Linked DNA regions of Homo sapiens. The protein of the gene in region 1 interacts with the protein of each later gene in a pairwise test. Each region holds a gene or a part of one and is shown in the gene's direction. Other genes may lie near its edges.

The links.
Region 2: the proteins of HSF2BP (region 1) and ZNF564 interact in binary tests that used the Homo sapiens proteins (3 or more experiments, as listed by UniProt).
Region 3: the proteins of HSF2BP (region 1) and GGN interact in binary tests that used the Homo sapiens proteins (3 or more experiments, as listed by UniProt).

What each region holds. Positions count from the first base shown.
Region 1 is NC_000021.9:43,607,425-43,611,076, reverse strand, and holds part of HSF2BP (heat shock factor 2-binding protein), read left to right. Parts: intron 1-1,087; exon of another isoform or gene 1,088-1,190; intron 1,191-3,652. UniProt on the Homo sapiens protein: Meiotic recombination factor component of recombination bridges involved in meiotic double-strand break repair.
Region 2 is NC_000019.10:12,524,781-12,527,542, reverse strand, and holds the end of ZNF564 (zinc finger protein 564), read left to right. Parts: coding exon 1-1,097; 3' UTR 1,098-2,170; downstream 2,171-2,762.
Region 3 is NC_000019.10:38,385,866-38,389,617, reverse strand, and holds the start of GGN (gametogenetin), read left to right. Parts: upstream 1-1,583; 5' UTR 1,584-1,643; intron 1,644-1,768; exon of another isoform or gene 1,769-1,795; 5' UTR 1,796-1,857; intron 1,858-2,337; 5' UTR 2,338-2,356; coding exon 2,357-3,752. UniProt on the Homo sapiens protein: May be involved in spermatogenesis.

The sequences.
Region 1 (3,652 bases):
TTTTGTAGAGACGGGGTCTCTCCATGTTGCCCAGGCTGGCATAGATGGTTTTGTTTGGGGGTATAATTTTACAAATTGCTTGTGGATCTAGTTCATTCCTTTTAAGTACCTTGCATCAAAGGAGATGTAATATTTGGATTATCCTTCCCTGACTGATGGGCATTTAAGTTACTTTCGGGTTTTACTTGACAAATATAATGCCGTAGTGAGCATCCTTGATAAACTCTTTGCTAACCTGTCTGAGAGTTCTCCAGGAGTTTTCCCAGAGGAAATATTTGAGAAGTAGTACATGGACATTTTCAATTTGATAAGATACTGCCAAATTGGTCACCATAGTGTACATTTCTACCTGCACCATGTCAGTGTTCGTGTTTCCCACGTCCTTGTCAGCACTTTGCTATTTATTATATTCCTCTAAAGAGAAAAAATATATGTGTATATGGAGAGAGAGGTGCCGGGGGAAGAGGGGGAGAGACAGGGTCTTGCTGTGTTACCCAGGCTGGAGTGCAGTGGTGCAATCACGGCTCACTGCAGCCGCGACCTCTGGGGCTCAAGTGATCCTCCCATCCCAGCCTCCCAAGTAACTGGGGTCCCAGCTACTCTGCACGCCACCATGCGCAGCTAATTTTTTTTTTTTTTTTGGTATTTTTTGTAGAGACAGGGTCTCACCTTGTTGCCCAGGCTTGTCTCAAACTCCTAAGCTCAAGTGATCCACCTGCCTCAGCCTCCCAGAATGTTGGGATTACAGCGTGAGCCACTGGACCTGGCCTTAAAGAGTATTTTTATCATCCACCTATCATCTGTCTGTCTTTGTCCTTCTCTCCCTTCCTTCAGATTTAGATTGCCAGTGAGGTTGAGGCTCTTCACATGTTTGTACCATTCCAGTTTTTCCTTTGAGTCACCTGTCTGTGTCTTGTGCCCACTTTCCTGTTGGGCTGCATTTTTCTTAGTGATCTGCTGTAGGTCTTTGTGTGTTCTGGATACTAATCCATTGCCTCTTTTGCTTCTGTGGTCTGTACAAGGTCCATATTTATGGGCCAGCTAAAGTCCCCCTTCAACTTCCAAGGCAAAGCTGTGTGTGAGGGCTGGGTCACTTCTAGCCTCTCCGGTTCCAGTCCCTGGAGCTCTGTGCCTTTGGGTCCTGGTGAGCTCTTGTTGATTGCAGTGGGAGATGGGGAGAATTGCCTTCAGAGCCATTCACTGACTTTCTTGGCAGTCTTCCATTTGGCCACTGAGCAAAGCCGCGTGTTTACCCTCTATCCTGACTCGGGATCTCAGCATGCACCAGCCTGAGAGGGGCCTTCCCCCTGGGATCTTTGGCTGCCTTCCAACATGCTCATGGCTTGTTCCGTCTCACCACATCTCCAAGGCACTCTTCTCCCCTCTTTTCACCTCCCCCACTTCACTAACGCCCACCCTTGAGTCCTCTGGAGCCCCAAGACCTTTCTCATACTATAAATCAGCCTCTTTTCTTCCTGGCCTCCCCCTGCCTTGTGTATAGCTTGCCTCTCTCTGGGGAACTACACTTTCACTGCCACTTTCATGATCGAAGGTCACTCATTTTCAGCAGTTAGTACCTTAGACCCAGAGATAGGGGTTATTTTTTTCCTAGTTGCCCATTTTTTAAAAAAATTTAAATTTAAATTTTAGATTCAGGGGGTACATGTGCAGGTTTGTTACAAGAGTATATTGCGTGATGCCAAGGTTTGGGCTTCTGTTGAATCTGTCACTCAGATAGTAGATATAGTACCCAATAGGAGATTTTTCAGTCCTTGTTCCTCTCCCTCCCTCTCTCCTTTTGGAGTCTCCAGTGTCTCTTGTTCCCATCTTTATGTCCGCGTATACCAAGGGTTTAGCTCCCACTTATAAATGAGAACATGCAATATTTGGTTTTCTACTTCTGGATTAATTCACTTAAGATAAGTGGAGGCAGCCTCCAGCTGCATCCATGTTGCTGCAAAGGACATGGTGGTGGTCTTTCTTTCTGGCTGCGAAGTATTCCATGGCTTGTATGTACCACATTTTCTTTATCCAATCCACTGTTGATGGACACCTGGGTTGATTCTATGTCTTTGCTATTTTTGTTTTGTTTAGTTTTGTTTTTGAGACAGGGTCTGGCTGTTCCATTCACACTGGCATGCAGTGGTGCTATCTTATCTCACTGCAGTCTGAAAATCCTGGGCTCAAGCAATCCTTCTGCCTCGGCCTCCCAAGTACTTGGGATTACAGGCATGTGACATCATGCCTGGCTAATTAAAAAAAATTTTTTTTTTTTTGGTAGCGATAGGGGTCTCACTTTCTTGCCCAGGATAGTCTTGAACTCCTGAACTCAAGTGATCCTTTCACCTCAGCCTCCCAAAGTGCTGGGATTTCAGGCATGAGCCACCACTTATCTTTGCTATTGTGAGCAGTGCTGTGATAAACTTATAAGGGCAGGTGTCTTTTTGGTAGAACAATTTTATTTTCCTTTGGCTATTTACCAAGTAATGGGATTGCTGGGTTGAATGCTAGGTCTGTTTTTAGTTCTTTGAGAAATCTCCAGACTGCTTTCCATAGGTGCTGAATTAATTTACATTCCCACCAACAGTGTATACGAGTTCCCTTTTTTCAGTGGTTTTGCCAACATGATGTTTTTTGACTTTCTAGTAATAGCCATTTTGACTGGTGTGAGATAGTACCTCATTGTGGTTTTGATTTGCGTTTCCCTGATGACTAGTGATGTTGGGCATTTTTTCATGTTTCGTTGGCTGCTTATATGTTTTCTTTTAAGAAGTGTCTGTTCTTGCCCTTTGCCTGCTTTTTAATGAGGTTGTGTGTTTTTTCTTGTTGATTTGTTTAACTTAACTTCCCTATAGATTCTGGATATTAGACTTTTGTTGGATCCATAGTTTGCGAATATTTTCTCCCATTCTGTAGGTTGTCTGTTTACTCTGTTGATAGTTTTTTTTGCTGTGGAGAAGCTCTTTATTTTAATTATGTCCCAATTGTCAATTTTCGGTTTTGTTGCAATTGCTTTTGAGGACTCAGTCAAATTCTTTGCCTAGGCCGATATCCAGAAGACTATTTCCTAGATTTTGTTCTAGGACTTTTATAGTTTGAGGTCTTACATTTAAGTCCTTAATCCATCTTGAGTTAATTTTTATCTGTGGTTAGAGGTAGTGGTCCAGTTTCATTCGTTTACATATGGTTAGCTATTTTTCCCAGCACCATTTATTGAACAGGGAGTCCTTTCCTCATTGCTTATTTTTGTCAATGTTGTCAAAGGTCAATTGGCTGTATGTGTGCAGCTTTAATTTCTGGGTTCTGTATTCTGTTCCATTGGTCTATGTGTTTATTTTTGTACCAGTGTTATGCTGTTTTAGTTAGTGTAGCCTGGTAGTATAGTTTGAAGGTGGGCAGTGTGATGGCTCTAGCTTTGTTCTTTTTTCTTAGCGTTGCTTTGGCTATTTGGGCTCTTTTTTGGTTCTATAAGAATTTTAGAAGAGTTTGTTCTAATTCTATGAAAAATGATGTTGGTAATTTAATAGCAATAGCATTGAATCTGTAGATTGCTTTGGGCAGTTTGGACATTTTCATGATATTGATTCTTCCAGTCCATGAACATGAATGTTTTTCCAGTTGTGTCATCTATGATACTTCTTTCAGCAGTGTT
Region 2 (2,762 bases), on another chromosome or scaffold:
TTAAGCACACTGGAGATGGACCATATAAATGTCAGGAATGTGGGAAAGCCTTTGATCGCCCAAGTTTATTTCAGATACATGAAAGAACTCACACTGGAGAGAAACCCTATGAATGTCAGGAATGTGCAAAAGCTTTCATTTCTCTTCCAAGTTTTCAAAGACACATGATTAGGCACACTGGAGATGGACCTTATAAATGTCAGGAATGTGGAAAAGCCTTTGACCGCCCCAGTTTATTTCGAATACATGAAAGAACTCATACTGGAGAGAAACCCCATGAATGTAAACAGTGTGGGAAGGCCTTCATTTCTTTCACAAATTTTCAAAGTCATATGATTAGGCACACTGGGGATGGACCTTATAAATGTAAAGTATGTGGGAGAGCCTTTATTTTTCCCAGTTATGTTCGAAAGCATGAAAGAACTCATACTGGGGAGAAACCCTATGAATGTAATAAATGTGGTAAAACCTTCAGTTCTTCCAGTAATGTTCGAACACATGAAAGGACTCACACTGGAGAGAAGCCCTATGAATGTAAGGAATGCGGGAAAGCCTTCATTTCTCTCCCAAGTGTCCGAAGACACATGATAAAGCACACTGGAGATGGACCTTATAAATGTCAGGTATGTGGTAGAGCCTTTGACTGTCCCAGTTCATTTCAAATACACGAAAGAACTCACACTGGAGAGAAACCCTATGAATGTCAGGTATGTGGGAAAGCCTTCATTTCTCTTAAAAGGATTAGAAAACATATGATACTGCACACTGGAGATGGACCTTATAAATGTCAGGTATGTGGTAAAGCCTTTGACTGTCCTAGTTCTGTCCGAACACATGAAAGAACTCATACTGGAGAAAAACCCTATGAATGTAAAGAATGTGGGAAAGCATTCAATTATGCCAGTTCCATTAGAATACATGAAAGAACTCATACCGGAGAAAAACCCTATGAATGTAAGCAATGTGGAAAAACGTTCAGTTATTCCAGTTCCTTTCAAAGACATGAAAGAGCTCATAATGGAGATAAACCTTACGTAAAGAATGTGGGAAAGCTTTCATTTATCACACAACCTTCGAATACCTGTGAAAATGAATAGTGGAGGACAGGTCTACAAGTATCTACATATCTAAAGAATATGGAAAGTCTTCAGTTTGCTTTCTGGGTTTCAGACTTGTTTGGGAGCTCACCCCTTTCTCCTGTTTCTCACTTTTGGAATAGGAATCTCTATCCTGTGCCTGTCTCATATTTTGGAAATACATGACTAGTTTGGTTTTCACCGGTTCGGAGCTGAAGAAGAATTTTGCCTCAGCATGAATTGAGTCTCATCCATATCTGAGTGATGTGATATTGAGATGACACTTTGGAGTTTGAGTTTAAACATTAGGCTTCATGCTGGAATTAACTGAGACTTTTGAGGCCTTTGGGATGAGATGAATATATTTTACATGTGATGACATGGATTTTGGGGGCCAGAGGTGTAATGTTTTGGCTGAGTGTATGCCACCTCAGATTCATATGTTGAAACCTTACCCCCGTGCCCCCCCTCTCCCCCACAATGTGATGGTATTTGGAGGCCCTGTCTCTGGTGGTTTTTAGGATTGGAGGACATCATGAAGATGGAGGCCTTGTAATTGGGATTAGTTTCCTGATAGGAATCCCTAGAGAGCTAGCTTTGCCCTTCACCATGAGAGGGTGCAGTGAGAAGATAGCTATCTTTGAACCGGGAAGCAGGCCCTTACCAGACATGGACTATGCCAGTGCCTTGATATTGGACTTCCCAGCCTCCCAAACCATGAGAAATAAATGTTTGTTGATTAATTAAGCTTTCCAATTTATGGTATTTTGTTTTAGCAACCCAAGCTAAGACACAATCCAATTTTAAAATGGAGGAAAGGACTTGAATAGACATTTCTCCAAAGAAGATACCCAGATGGCCAATAAGCACGTAACAATGCTCGACATCTTTAGTCATTAGGGAAATACAAATCAAACTCAAGACATACATAGCATCTCATTAGGATTAGTAGTATCAAAGATGGAAAACAAGAAATACTGTCAAGGATGTGGAATGTTGGAGAACATTGTGCACTATCACTGGGAATGTACAGTGGTATAAGCCTGCTGAAAACAGTATGGCAGATCCCCAGATTAAAATATAGAAATAACATATGATCAGCATTTCCATTTCTGGGAAAATAAAAAGATTGAAAGCAGGGCCGGGCGTGGTGGATCACGCTTGTAATCCCAGCACTTTGGGAGGCCGAAGCAGGCGGATCACAAGGTCAGGAGATTGAGACCATCCTGGCTAACATGATGAAACCCCGTCTCTACTAAAAAAAAATTAGCCGGGCGTGGTGGCAGGCGCCTGTAGTCCCAACTGCTCGGGAGGCTGAGGCAGGAGAATGGCATGAACCCGGGAGGCAGAGCTTGCAGTGAGCTGAGGTCGCGCCACTGCACTCCAGCCTGGGTGAGAGAGCAAGACTCCGTCTCAAAAAACAAAACAAAACAAAAAAGATTGAAAGCAAAGTCTCAAATAGGTTTTGTACACCTGTGTACATAGCATCATTCACAATAGGTAAACTCTGGAAACTACTCAGGTTTTCATCAACAGATGAATAAACAAAAGGAAGTTTATACATACAAGAGAATATTACTGAGTCTTACAAAGTAAGGAAATTTACAAATATGCTGCAAGATGAACCTTGACGTGCTAAGTGAAATGGGCCATTCATGTAAAGACAATACGGTATGATTCTACTTA
Region 3 (3,752 bases), on another chromosome or scaffold:
CCAGAGAGCATTTCATTCACAAAAATCAAGGCTGCTCCCCCAGGCCCCAGCCGAGGGAAGCCAGGGGGGAAAGATGGGATGGGGGGGCAGATTGATCCTTCCTCCCTCTTCCCTTCCCGCCCCCCAGCCCCAGCATCCTTCAGAACCATTTTACCCCGCCCCCCAGCTCAGAGGACGTAGCCCTCCGCCCAGTAATCGGGATCAGTGTCCAGCCCTTCACTGCCATCCAGCACAGGGACCCTGGCGTCCCAACCTTAGGGACCCGGACGAGCTCTAGCCCCCTCCCCCACCTGCAGGCTGCTGGGTTTCCCGGGCCCTTCAGGAGGGGAAGGGGCGGCTGCAGCGCCCCCAGCCCCCTTTTCTCAATGGGATGGGATTTTGTGAATGAGCAGTCACGTGACGCTGCTTCCTTTGTCCGCCCGCCTCCCCCGACAACAGGTGAAGCAGGGAATGAGAGCAGGGGTCCCCCCAGGGCCTAGCTGGAATGGGGCACTGGCATTTCAGGGTGGCCTACGCTCCCCACACATCCTGTGTCCCCCGGGGGGAGTGGTCCTCAGCGTTCCTCAACGGTGAGGGTCCAGGACGGAATTTTGTGAATGGGGCATCCTCGGAGAAAGTCCAGACCCCACAAATGAAGACTGGTACCCTGAATGGCTGCCGCGCAGTTTGGGGGGTCCCCACTCTCTAGTCCTCCTAGCCGGGGCCTTGGGGGCGCCTGGGTGGGCAGAAGGCGCAGCGCGGTCACGGCCGCCCCCTCATCGGGGCAGGCAGTCTGTCAGCCCCCGCCCCCTCGCCCCCCTCGGCACCTGCCTGCGAGGCTCCGGCCGGGCTCCGAGCGGCGGCGACGCGGCCTCCTCCTCCTCCTTTTCGTTCCGGCTCCCTGGCTGGCTCCGGCGGCGCTGGAGACGGGCACCGGGAGCCGGGGCGAGGGGGGAGGGAGGGGGAACCTGGAAGACGGGTGGGGGGGGAAGGGGCGGCTTGGGGGAGGGGTAAGAGCGAGGCGGGCTTACTTGCCTGCTGGGTCCTAGAGCCCGGCACTAGCTCCAGAGAGCAACCCCCCAGCCCCCATTTTCTTAAGATCCAGAGGGGATCCCCCACTTTTCCACCCATCTGCGCCATTGGTCTCTAATGCTATGAGGAGGGGACGGGGCAGGGACAGGGACTGGTCTCAAGGTTCTAAAGAGGTGGTGGTCTACGCTGTGGCTTGGGTGCCTGGCAGAGTTCGATAAGGGGTGGGGCGAGAGGGGAGCCTTCACAAGTGGGTGGGGTTGGAGGGCCTGGGTATAAGGAGGTTTGGATGCTGCAGGCGAGGACTAGTGCGTGCGTCACGAAGGGGCGGGCCCACGGTGGATGGGCCTTCTCGGCGCCCGGGGGGAAGGAGAGGGTCTTGAGAAGCGATGTTGCCGGGTCTTAAAAAGGCGGAGCTTAGAGGTAAATTGCCTTAGGGGCGGGGCAGATGAGAGGTCCAAAGGGGAGGAGCGACGCATCGGTGTTCGCGTGGGCGGGGCCTCGGGAGGGAATGAGAGGGGCGGGACATTCTAAAGGGGAGGGGCTAAGGAGAACAACCCAAAGGGGTGGAGCTTAGAACCAGAAGGCCTGGGGGCGAGGAACAAGACCTCGGAGTATTTCAAGGGGAGACCTAGGTTCGTAAGGGGCCGGGCTCCCGCGGGCTCGCAGGAGGGCGGGGCCTCGAGCTCCGGGGGCGGGGCCTACATCTCGGGGTCCGCCCTAGTTGTCTCGCCCACTTGCCTTCACCCGCACCCCCGTTCTTTTCGGTTATTTTCTGCTACGGCAGTTCCCTGCCCTGCCCCGGGCCCAGGGCGCCGCGGTCTGAACTCTGCTCGGCTGGAGGACTCGGTGAGTGGGTTCCTCTGGGGGGAGGCGGGGCCAGGGCGGAGCTTGGGGACAGGGGTGGAGCTTGACTGTGGATGCCAGCTAGTAGACCTGGAGCGGGAAGAGGTTTAGGGGTGAGGCCTGAGGATCTGCCCCTGCCTGGGAAGAGGGCGGGACCCAGGTGCTCTAGAGAGAGGCGGGGAGTCGGAGAGTTAGAGGAGAGGACTGAGGGATCAGCATGACCAGCCAAGGGGACAGGCATGGAACCTTAGTACATAATGGGGCTGGTAGTGAAGTATCTTAACAGCAGCTGTGTTGGGGACATGGGCAAGAAGGCGTGAGTGTCGAAGGTCGGGGAACAGGAGTGCGACCTAAGGACTTGGGCCTGATCGGATCTTGGAGAACAGGGGCGGGGCCGGTGCGGACGCATTAGATCAAGTACAGCCAGCCTCGTAGGGTCCCCACGGCCCTGGCAGGCTGACTGGAGTAAATTTTTCTGACTAGTCTCCGAGCTCCGTCAGAAATGGGGAACTTGCAGTCGGAGCCATCCGCGGGCGGGGGCTCCCGAAAAGTGCAGCCCTCGGACCGCGCCCCCGACTCCCGCCGGACGTCCCTGGTGGAGCCCGAGATGACCTCCCAGGCCATGCGCCTGACTCGTGGGCTGGGTGTCTGGTTCCCTGGCAGCGCCACACCCCCGGGACTCATGGTACCCCGGGAGCCCCAGGCCTCACCCTCGACCCTGCCCCTCACCTTAGAACGGCCCTCTCCAGTGATGCCCCCTCCTGAAGAGGCGGCCGCGGTCTCTGCACCACCCCCGGCCCCCGCGGGGACTCTGCTGCCCGGCCCGTCTAAATGGCAAAAGCCCGCGGGCACTCCAGTTCCCCGGATCCGCCGCCTGCTGGAGGCGAGCCATCGCGGCCAGGGCGACCCTCCGAGCCTCCGCCCGCTGAAGCCGCCGCCGCCGCCCCGGCAACTATCCGTGAAGGACACTGTCCCGAGGGCCCCATCCCAATTTCCGCCGCCCCTGGAGACTTGGAAGCCGCCACCACCATTACCTTCTGAACGGCAGCCGGCGGACCGCAGAATCACTCCTGCTCTGGCCACACCCGCCTCACCCCCGACAGAAAGCCAGGCTGGGCCCCGCAACCAGGGCCAGACGGCCGGCAGGGCTCGCGGAGGGGCGCCTCCCCATGCGGGCGAAGGCGAAATGGCCCAGCCTGCGGATTCCGAGTCCGGTCTGAGCCTGCTGTGTAAAATCACCTTCAAGTCGAGGCCCTCTTTGGCCCCTCCGGCAGCCTCGAGTTCCTTAGCAGCCAAAGCTTCGCTGGGGGGCGGCGGAGGCGGCGGCCTCTTTGCTGCCTCAGGTGCCATCTCTTACGCCGAGGTCCTGAAGCAAGGGCCCCTGCCTCCTGGAGCCGCTCGCCCCTTGGGAGAGGTTTCTCGAGGGGCACAGGAAGCCGAGGGAGGTGATGGAGACGGCGAAGGGTGCTCTGGTCCTCCCTCGGCGCCTGCGTCCCAAGCCCGGGCCCTACCGCCGCCACCCTACACCACCTTCCCAGGCTCGAAGCCCAAATTCGACTGGGTTAGCGCTCCCGACGGCCCTGAACGCCACTTCCGCTTCAACGGGGCTGGCGGAGGCATCGGGGCGCCGCGACGGCGTGCGGCCGCACTCTCTGGGCCTTGGGGCTCCCCTCCGCCACCACCAGAGCAGATACACTCAGCTCCCGGGCCCCGGAGGCCCGCACCTGCCCTGCTGGCGCCGCCTACGTTCATCTTCCCAGCACCCACCAATGGCGAGCCCATGCGCCCGGGGCCTCCAGGCCTGCAGGAGTTACCACCGCTGCCACCGCCCACACCGCCGCCCACACTGCAGCCACCAGCGCTCCAGCCAACGCCGCTGCCGGTGGCTCCCCCGCTCA